2 linked regions of the Homo sapiens genome follow. The protein of the gene in region 2 interacts with the protein of the main gene of each other region in a pairwise test. Each region holds a gene or a part of one and is shown on either strand. Other genes may lie near its edges.

Evidence for each region. Proteins that work in one complex are often made in the same cells at the same time.
Region 1: the proteins of ENPP7 (region 2) and BACH2 interact in binary tests that used the Homo sapiens proteins (3 or more experiments, as listed by UniProt).

What each region holds. Positions count from the first base shown.
Region 1 is NC_000006.12:90,289,950-90,294,887, forward strand, and holds part of BACH2 (transcription regulator protein BACH2), read right to left. Parts: exon of another isoform or gene 2,534-4,938; intron 1,997-2,533; exon of another isoform or gene 1,301-1,996; intron 1-1,300. UniProt on the Homo sapiens protein: Transcriptional regulator that acts as a repressor or activator. Binds to Maf recognition elements (MARE). Plays an important role in coordinating transcription activation and repression by MAFK.
Region 2 is NC_000017.11:79,732,912-79,737,849, reverse strand, and holds part of ENPP7 (ectonucleotide pyrophosphatase/phosphodiesterase family member 7 precursor), read right to left. Parts: intron 4,343-4,938; coding exon 4,197-4,342; intron 2,808-4,196; coding exon 2,181-2,807; intron 810-2,180; coding exon 590-809; intron 1-589. UniProt on the Homo sapiens protein: Choline-specific phosphodiesterase that hydrolyzes sphingomyelin releasing the ceramide and phosphocholine and therefore is involved in sphingomyelin digestion, ceramide formation, and fatty acid (FA) absorption in the gastrointestinal tract.

The DNA of each region.
Region 1 (4,938 bases), on a different chromosome or scaffold from region 2:
GTTAACTTGTATTTTTTCCAAGTATGGAAATGAACAGTACTCTTGGCAGTTAACTTCTGTTTTTATCAGGTTCTAAAGACCCAGGTAAATAAATCAATTCTGGACTCTGTATACAGGAACTATTATTTGCCAAAATGGCCCCAGAGGTTCCAGCATGGCTTAGGCAATACTCCAAAGGGCCAAAGATAGTAGTGAATTAATAGGATTAGGAAGCTGGAGAAAAAGTGAATCTCAAGTTTCAGACTGTCCCTGATGGAAGGTCACTCCACAATTCCTCAGGGAGGGCTTCCCCAACCTCCCGACCAGGTTAAATCTGCCCATTAGACACTCTGGTGTATGAAATACTTTCCTTCACGAGCAGTGGGTTATCTGTTACTAACTGATCAGTGCCATTCTTCCTACCAGATGACGTGCTTCATGAGACCAGGGGCCAGGACTGGGTTTGCTCCCCATTAGCACTGTGGTCACTTAACACTATGCCTGCCATGTAAGAGATACTCAGTATATATTTGTTTAATGAATGAATGAGGCATCTGCCTCTAAGCAACAGTATTTCTGGACACTTGGCCCATTTTGCACTATCCACGAGCTTCTGTTGCTTAGAAGAATACAGGATAGGAAAAAAAGAAAAATTGCCAAAAATCTATGGATACTGAAATACTAAGGAAAGATGCTGAGCATGTACATTCACTTTGTTTCCTACTTGTGGAATGGAAATCATCACATTGGGATCTCCCAACTTTAAAATCCGAAGTGAAGGTCTAAGCTGTCTTTGGGTTAGACTCCTGGAAAGTCTTGAGGAAATTCCTGAAGTATCTGCAGAAAGTGACAGGGGAGGGAGAATAGAAGATGGCCCAAGACTAGAGTGATGGAAGACTTGGAAACTCGAAAAGCTTTCTTCTAACTAACTGGGACTTTGTCTACATGCCAGCTACAGGCTCAGGCACACATGAAGAGAATAATGAGATGAATGGGAGGACTGGAAAGTGGAGGATTTAAATGCTTAGGAAAGGAGCCAATGAAAGCTGACACAAGGACAGGAGGGACCTAGCAACCAAGCGCCGGCTCTCATCACATCAGCAGCAGCATGTCCTACAGCCTTCAGGAAAAGAACAAAAAGGTCAGGGAGGAAAATGACACATCTCAGAACCAAAGGGCAATTCATTATGAGGCTAAGGAACAAAGGAGAAGTCAACCAGGGAATATGCTGAAGAAACGGTGATTATGAAGTCACTGGGGAAGACTGAGAGGCATTTTGGCTGTAGTTCCAATGACTAGAATGAAGGATGATGTGAAATGCTTTTGGATTGGGAAGATTTATTATTTTGGAAAAAAAATAGCTCAAGGAAAAACAAATGGCAAAATTCCTGCCTGAATTTTGAAGTAGTGTCACTAGCAGGATGAGGTTCAATTTATACATTCTTTAGAAATGAAATGGCCCTTGGAAAAGACATAGTGGTAAGATTCGCAGGACATTTCCAGCCTTACGGAAGCTGAGTAGCATGCTGATAGTAAAATTAAGTTTCAGTTTTAGATAGACTGACATTTGAAATTAACAAAAAAAAAAGTAAAGGGAAAAAATTAAAAGACCCTGAACTGACAAAAAAAAAGAAAAAAAAAAGCAACTACTGTCTTTTTTTTTTAAATTAAATGTCATCACAAACAAAAAAAAAAAGGTGAAAGTTGAGTTGTATTTTGGGCAATCTTACTGAGTTTACAAAATGTTTAGTTCATAGCAGGTTTCAGTTTGGACATGAACAGTTTGTAAATATTTACATAAAATTTAAAGATAGGAGGACAGCAGAGGTCATATATTGCTATTAACAATACAGAAGCGATTTTCCGTCATTCCCAAGGCCTTGGTGCTGCGTTCCCATATGTGGCCCCAGCTCTGCCAAAAGCTTGTCTTCTTTTCCAAAGAAATTCCAATTTTTGCAACCAGCATTGACTTCTGAACTGTGAGTACCTCTGACAGGGTCATATGTCGCTGAAACTTCTTCAACATCCAGACAGGGAAAGGAGAAAAACAGGGAGGCAGATTTACAGCGTCTGCTATCTGAATTGCAGATTTTGACAAATATGTTACATTTTATATTGTTCTCTGTTCTATGTGAGGGCAGGGACCATGTTCTCTGTATGTCACAGTCCTACACCATGCCCAGTCATTGATTCAGGACTGGACTGTGTAATGGAATGGGGAAATAACCTTCAGACATTCAAGAAAACATGCACTATATTCAGATTAAGTTCATTCCAACATGAGATTAGTTCTTCCAACTCTGCAGAATGGGCAGGCACGACACCTACTTCAAAGGGTTGCTTTGAGGAATCAATGAAGTACATTCAGGCAAGGTAGTCAGCACTGGGTCTGGCACATGGTGCGGATTCAGTAAATCAAAACTATTATTTTGGTGAGTGTTCTCAAATGTCAAACTCCCATGGAGGTCCTCAGGCATTACCCAGCCAAGTTACCCCATCTGGTCAGTAACAACTAAATAGAGGGCAGGTGGTTCAAAAGTAATGGATTATTCACCTGCAAGGAATCACACTGTACTCATGGTATTAAATTATTCGGCCTTTCATGTCGAATTCTCTGTTAAAAAGGAAGCTGATCAATCCCTGAGTGGGACTCAATGTTGATTTGAAGTTTTGTTTTTTTGGCATCTTTCTATTTTCCAGGTAGTTGTAACCATTCATTGGGTGCATACTCACAAATCATCCACTATATGCCAGGCCTTTAGAAAACAGAGACACACAAAGATATTAAACAAAAAAAGATGTTTCAGTCTGTTCAGTAGTGGGAGACAAGCAGCCCCCAGGCCGACACTAGCTCTTACATATGCTTTCATCCAAAAATTTTTTAAAGATTTGAGCCAATATTTAAAAATCAGGAAATTCCACATAAATATCCAATATTCAGCTTCCCCTGGAAAAATCAAATGATGTGGCAACACAAAGCCAGTAGTCCTACCAACTGTTCCCTAGCAAGAGTCTACAATGAGTTGAGTAGGGGCGGCCTGCCACTCCACACTATGCCCTGCTCCTCACCAGAACCAGGTAAGTACATAATTTGCAGGGCTCAGTGAAAAATGAAAACGAGGGGCCCTTTGTTCAAAAATTATTAAGAATTTCCGAAGAAAACAGCAGAACCTTATACCAAATATGAGGTCCTTCTGAGCAGGGAAGAGGAAGGGGGCCTATGTAACTGCACAGGTCTTATGCCCATGAAGCTAGTACTGGCTCTCACCCCCTGGACACACAGGAAGATATTTATTTATCTAAGTATTCTCTCATTCATTAACAATCAAGCCTGCATTTACAATAAGCTAGATGTCACACCCCTGAAATCTGAGGTTCAAAAACTAGAGTAGAGGGGCCAGGCACAGCAGAGATAGAGAGCCACTAGGGTCTCTTTCCTTTTTGTTAAGACTGGATCCACACCAGAGACACTGAAAGTTAATCCAAGTAAAATTAAACTGCTCTCAACAATACAGATTGGCTTGAGCCCTTTTGTTGGCATCACAGGAGCCTCGATTAGGAATTCTGAGAAACAGCTCACAAGCGCTAATGAATAACTAAGTCCTGTCGGCTGTGCAGACAGTGGGCCCAGAAGTGAAGGGCTGGCCTAGGAGAGATCTGAACATGAACCTGACCATCTGGCCCTCTGTGACTCACTTTGATCACAAAATGAATTGCAACAAATTGAAGAGCACATGGCTAGAGTTAATTGTCTCATCTGTAATCTGAATCTACTTTTAAGCAGTTATTATTACCCTCTATCAGGTGGAAACATTTCCTACCATCACTGCAAAGTGCATTTTCCTGATGAACTATAATGGATCATTAAATTCCATATCTGAATAACAATACTGTGCACTTATTCAGTGCCTTTCATCCAGGGATTTCAAGGCAGTTTGCAAATAATTAAGCCCCTTACACAGCAGCCAGAGGTGAGCTACTGGAAAAGAATTGCCTGAAGATACTAAGTCAAAGGGCATAATTCAATAGGAAAATAATAAATGGCTTTCTCCCAGGCACTGGTAATACAGAAAGTGAATCCTGATCCCCTCCCTCTCTTTCACCTCACCCCTTCTTCTTCATAGCAGATCCTGACATGCAACATACAAAGAACCAAAAAAGTAACTAACAGGAGTGTTCACAATTTAGCTATGAGTTCAGACACACACTTAACTGAGAAGTGTGTGTCTCCATGTAATCCTGGCAAACACACTACCAACTGACATTTCAGTCCACCTGCAGAATAGACAGACAGCAGAAGAATTTACTCAACACATTCATGATTACCAAATGGCAAACCTGAAGCCTCCTGCAATGCAAAACGAAAATACGGCTCTGCACCAATAAAGTTATGTTCTAACAAAAATACTTTATTCCATGGTTGTGTGTTCCATTTCTGGGACTTCGCTCTATTTCAATGATATTCAGGTTTCGAGAGTAAAAAAAACGTTGGAAATGGGCAATCAATAAATTTCTTTCAAAAACCAGAATACTAGAAGGGAAAACATTTCAGCCACTCAAAGTTTTGTGGTGAAATTATAAACTCCAGAAAAACTGAATTTATAATGGAAATGCTGACAGACCTTTCAGTGGAGCAGTTTGAACGCAACACTGTAATTTGGCAATCTCTCTTACAGACTAAAGACTAATTCTAACAAGATGTCATTTTGACTCACGTTTATTATTACCTGCAAGAATGAAAAACGCCGTTTACTCGGGAGGTGCCCGAGAACCAGGGTGGGGCGATCTCACATTTTAAGCAAGACGCCCGCTGCCTTACCAAAATAGCCCTCTCCGCCAAAGGAGGGGCAGCCTTTCACGCTCAGCTTCTTTCATGTCAGCCCGAGCCTTTGCAGCAAGACGTGCCTTTCCTACATGTTACATTTTAATGATCTGAGAAAACCGTTATCAGCGTTAACA
Region 2 (4,938 bases):
AACTCGGGGTCCTCTGTTGGTCCCCACGAGCCCCTCCTTCCTCTTTCACCGCCCCCTTGGTCCCATGGCCTTTGTCCACCACGGCCCTTCATAGCCCTGCTCAGTAGAGCCCACCCCTCTCCAGCCAGGCCCCCGCCGGGGTCGCCACCTTGTCAGTTTCCAGGTGGCCTTTGTCCCCAAGATGGGGCAGGTTCCAGTGGGGAGGTGTGTGTGTGGGAGGCTGATACAGGAAGATTCCAGAAAGGAGGCCCTCAGGTTGCTGTGGTGGGGAGTGGGGAGTGGGGATCCAGCAGCCAGGAGGTGGGCTCTGCACAGCAGGCCCGCCTGGGCCACCCTCGCTCCCTCCAGCCCCTTCTTGAGCAAGACTGCCCACTCCTCCCCCTCGCCCTCTCGTGCCGCCCGAGATGCATGAGGTGCTCGTGAGAGGTCACGTGTTGTGGGAATGTGAGAGATTCTGGTGTTCTCCAAAGCCAGGGGAGGTGGCCCCACTTGGGGCTCAAGGGTGTCCTGGTCACAGGCATGCAGGCACCCTCGTGTGCACACGTGTACACACCAGAGCAGGCGGGGATTTGGGGCACCCTGCCCTCACCTGTGTGCAGCATGGGCAGCAGAGTAGCTAGGTGCCCATCGTTGGCCTCGGGCACGATGCCCAGCAGCCGGCACATGAGCTCGTACACGTGGACGCTCTCAAAGGGCTCCACCTCCAGGCCCGCCCTGAAGCTAGGGCCCACAGCGCGGAAGATGGTCTTCATGTCCATGTCCTTGTTGTCAAAGCCGTGCTCCCCATTGTTGAACTGGACGTTAATTCTCTGCCGGGGAGCGGGCAAGGGTCCTGGGTCCTTGCTGGGAGCAACAGACCCTCTCCGCCTACCCTATCCACCCTATGAACACCCCCTTAGGAAGGAGCACCAACGTGAGGGCTGGAGGGGTTCCAAGACTCAGTTTCCCCGAATTCTGAGCCTCCAAAGATCAGTCACCCTAAAGAGTGAAGTTCAGGGAAGGTCCAGTTAAATGAACGGAGACCAGACCCTGAGTAAATGGGAGTGGAGCGGGCAGCTCCAGGCTTCGGGGCCTGCCGCCTGTGCGGTGTTGAACGCTGCCTCCCATCGGTCACTTCCTTTCCGGGGATGTCTGCTCCCTAATCTGTGCTTCGCTTCCGGCTCAGCATCCCTGTGCTGTCTGCTGAGGGGAGGTTGGGCTCCTGACTCTTTCCTACCTCTTCCATGTCACCCTTGGGGCTGGACTTCTACACTTTACCCTGGACACGTAGGACGCACACACACACACACACACACACACACACACACACACACGCCTATCACACAGTGCCTGGTCATGATGGATACAGACGTGCACACACACTCCCACTGCCTGGTGCCTGAATGTGGAGGGCACACACAGATGTGCACACACCCTACCGCATAGTGAAGGAAGTGTCCCTTCGGTGCTGACACTCCTCAAACTGGGGACCAGCTAGAAACAGGAAGTGCCTCTATGGAGATGGAAGGAGAGGCCAGACGCAGTGGCTCACCCCTGTAATTCCAGCACTTTGGGAGGCCCAGGCAGGAGGATCGCTTCAGCCCAGGAGTTTGAGACCAGCCTGGCCAACATGCAAAACCCTGTCTCTACAAAAAAATACAAACATCAGCTGGGCACAGTGGCTCACACCTGAATCCCATAACTTTGGGAGGCTGAGGCGGGTGGATCGCCTGAGGCCAGAAGTTCGAGACCAGCCTGGCCAACATGGTGAAACTCTGTCTCCACTAAAAATACAAAAAATTAGTCAGGCATGGTGGCAGGCGCCTGTAATGCCTCAGAGGGCTGAGGCAGGAGAATCGCTTGAACCCAGGAGGTGGAGGATGCAGCGAGCCAAGATGGCACCATTACCCTCCAGCCTGGATGACAAGAGTGAAACTCTGTCTCAAATGAAACAAAACAAAACAAAACACACACAAAAATTAGCCAGGCATGGTGGTGTGCACCTGTGGTCTCAGCTACTCAGGAGGCTGAGGTGGAAGGATCGCTTGAGTCTGGGAGTTTAAGGCTGCAGTGAGCTGAGATCCTGCCATTGCACTCCAGCCTGGGCAACAGAGCAAGACCCTGGTCTCAAAAAAAAAAAAAGAAGACCCAGAGCCTGGGGAGGGAGCCCCTGGAGGTGGTGCCTCCAGCAGGCGACTCACCCCATGGATGACGTAGCCAAGGTCGCTGTACATCAGCAGGGGTGTGACCCTGGGGTTGTTGGCGTAGTGGAAGGCCTCGGGGAACGCCTCCTTCTTGTAGACGTGGAGCTTGGGGTGGGCGTCCTTGAGGGCATCGTACACCTTCTCCAGCCTCCCTTCTTTAGGGAGCAGCATCCCGTTTGGTCCGTAGTCCAGGAGCTCAAACTCGATGTCCCGGAAGGTGAAGTTGGGGAACTTGTGGAATTCAACCAGGTCGCCAGCCCGTTTGTCCACGGTCGTCATGCCGTGGTCGGATGTGATGATCAGGTTGAGGCGGTCTGTGAGGTGGTTGCGCGCGATGCTCTCCCGGAGGTAGCCCACGGTCCGGTCCACCTGCCGCACCATCTCCCTCCTCTCCGGGGACTCGGGGCCGTACCTGTGGCCCGTGGAGTCCGGCTCCCCGAAGTAGAGTGTGACCAGATCCAGGTCCTCCTCTGTGAACCACGCCATCACTGTGTCGATGTTCGCTCTCCACTCCGTCTCATTTTTGTAGTTGTGTGCGATGCCTTCTTTCCGGCTCCGCGTCACAGCCACCCCTTGGTAGGTGACGTTCCCGCCCGGGTAGAAGAAGGAGCCAGCCCTCAGGCCCTGCCAGACAAGGCAGCGTGAAAGACAGGACTCCTCAGTGGGCTGCCCCTTGTCTCATGCCTGTGAACACATTTGTCCCCCACGTGCCTACTTCTCTGTTCCACCCACCCATCCCTGCTCCTAGCTGCAGCTGCGGGGCCTTTAATTTCTAAAACATCCCTGATCTCATGTTCTATGGGGGTAAAACCTGATTTTATAGAGGAAACAACAGGTGCCCACTGGACTTGAGCACTAAACAAGACATCAGTATAAAGATGTTCCCAGAGGCCGGGCGCAGTGGGTCATGCCTGTAATCCCAGCACTTTGGGAGGCCAAGGCGGGTGGATCCCGAGGTCAGGAGATGGAGACCATCCTGGCTAGCACGGTGAAACCCTGTCTCTACTGAAAATACAAAAAAATTAGCCAGGCGTGGTGGCGGGCGCCTGTAGTCCCAGTTACTTGGGAGGCTGAGGCAGGAGAATAGTGTAAACCCGGGAGGCAGAGCTTGCAGTGAGCGGAGATGGCGCCACTGCACTCCAGCCTGGGCGACAGAGCGAGACTCCGTCTCAAAAAAAAAAAAAAAATGTTCCCAGATACGCAGTGTCTGCCTCATCACTGTCCATCCCACCTGCCCGTCCACTCCCCCAGGATATTCTTTCATTGGATCAAGAGCCTTGTGATGCCAGGGTCTCTACCTTGGCTTCCTGCTCACCAGCCGGTGGAAGGAGCCCTGAGTGTGTCTATGATCCTTCTGGAGTGAGGGAACCCCGGCTTGAGTGGATAACTTGGCTCTGGGGTGGGCATGGGCTCTGACATTTATTCCAGCGTCATCTTGGAAACCTCCACTGACTTTGTTTACTGGAAGCCTCGCCTCTGGGCCAGGAAGCCCCCAGAGCATTGCAAACTGGGGGTGGGTGGGGGGGTTCCTGGGTCAATACTGTAACCCACCTCTCATTTTGTCTTTGGCCCTTTAGAATTTAGCTGTTCAGCTGTGACAGGGATGTGGAAAGGGAGAAAGTCGTCTAATTGTTAAATGCTTTCTTGTTGAGTCACAGTGATCTTCCCTGTCCGACCCTCACCCCCAATGCTGCAGGGCCCAAGGGTGCAGTTCTCCCTCCGACTAGGGGGACAGAGCAATCCCTCTTGCTCCCAGGGCCCCCCAGAGAGGACCGGGCAGGGCTGTGTCCATGGGCCGAGCCGGACGTAGCTCACTGGTTAGTCCTCACCAGCACCCACCACCTGCCCCTTTTGGGGCCCTACTTCACACCCTTCTGTGCCAGGGTAGGCCAGGAGCCCCGAGACCCTGGAGTGGGGAAGGGACCTGCCGTGGATCTCACATGGTTCCAAGCCTCACCTGGGCCTAGGTGCCCCCGTGCTCTGCGATGTCAGTATGGGCGGGGGTGACATTACCTGCCTCTGGGCTGTGATCCAGATGGGCACGCTGCCGTTGTCCCACCACCTCTGGATGCCCAGCGTGGCGTGGTAGGGCAGCTTCACCTTGCTGGTGGTGTTGTAGTACATGTTGTGAACCACCCCGTGGTTCTCGATATATTTGCCTGAGGGAGGAAGAGGTGCAGAGGGCGGCGGGATGGACCGGGGTCACAGCGAAGGCCGGACCCAGGGCTGGAAGAGGCGAAGTCAAAACAGCCCAGGTTTCCCTGTGTGCTGGGTGGGGAGTGGGCCTGGGGCAGGGCTGGGGGGAGCAGACTTCCTCCTGCACTGCCCCGTGGGAGCCAAGGTTCGAGGTCATGTCTGAGACAAATAGACACGTGTTCTTTGACCTGTTTTAGCAATCGCACTTCCACTTTCAGTTTGTCCCACAGCTGGACGGGCACACAGGCACGAATGCGTGTGCAGGGATCCTGGTGGCAGCCTTGTTTGCTTTAGCAAAAGATTGCGGGTGACCTCCACGGCCGTCAGGAAGGAACTCATTAAATAAATGATGGCCCAGCCATCAGACGAGATCCCAGGCAGGAATTTCAGTGAACTACGTGGAGCTCCAGGAGATTTTTTGAATTTATTTTTGTACAGGAAACACGTGCACATGGTACTAAGTCCAAAAGGTGCAAAAGGAGAGATGATGTGGAGAAGGTCCCTCCCGTCCTCATCTGCGATACAGAGAGCAAAAGAGGCGCTGCGCAGACGGGAGACC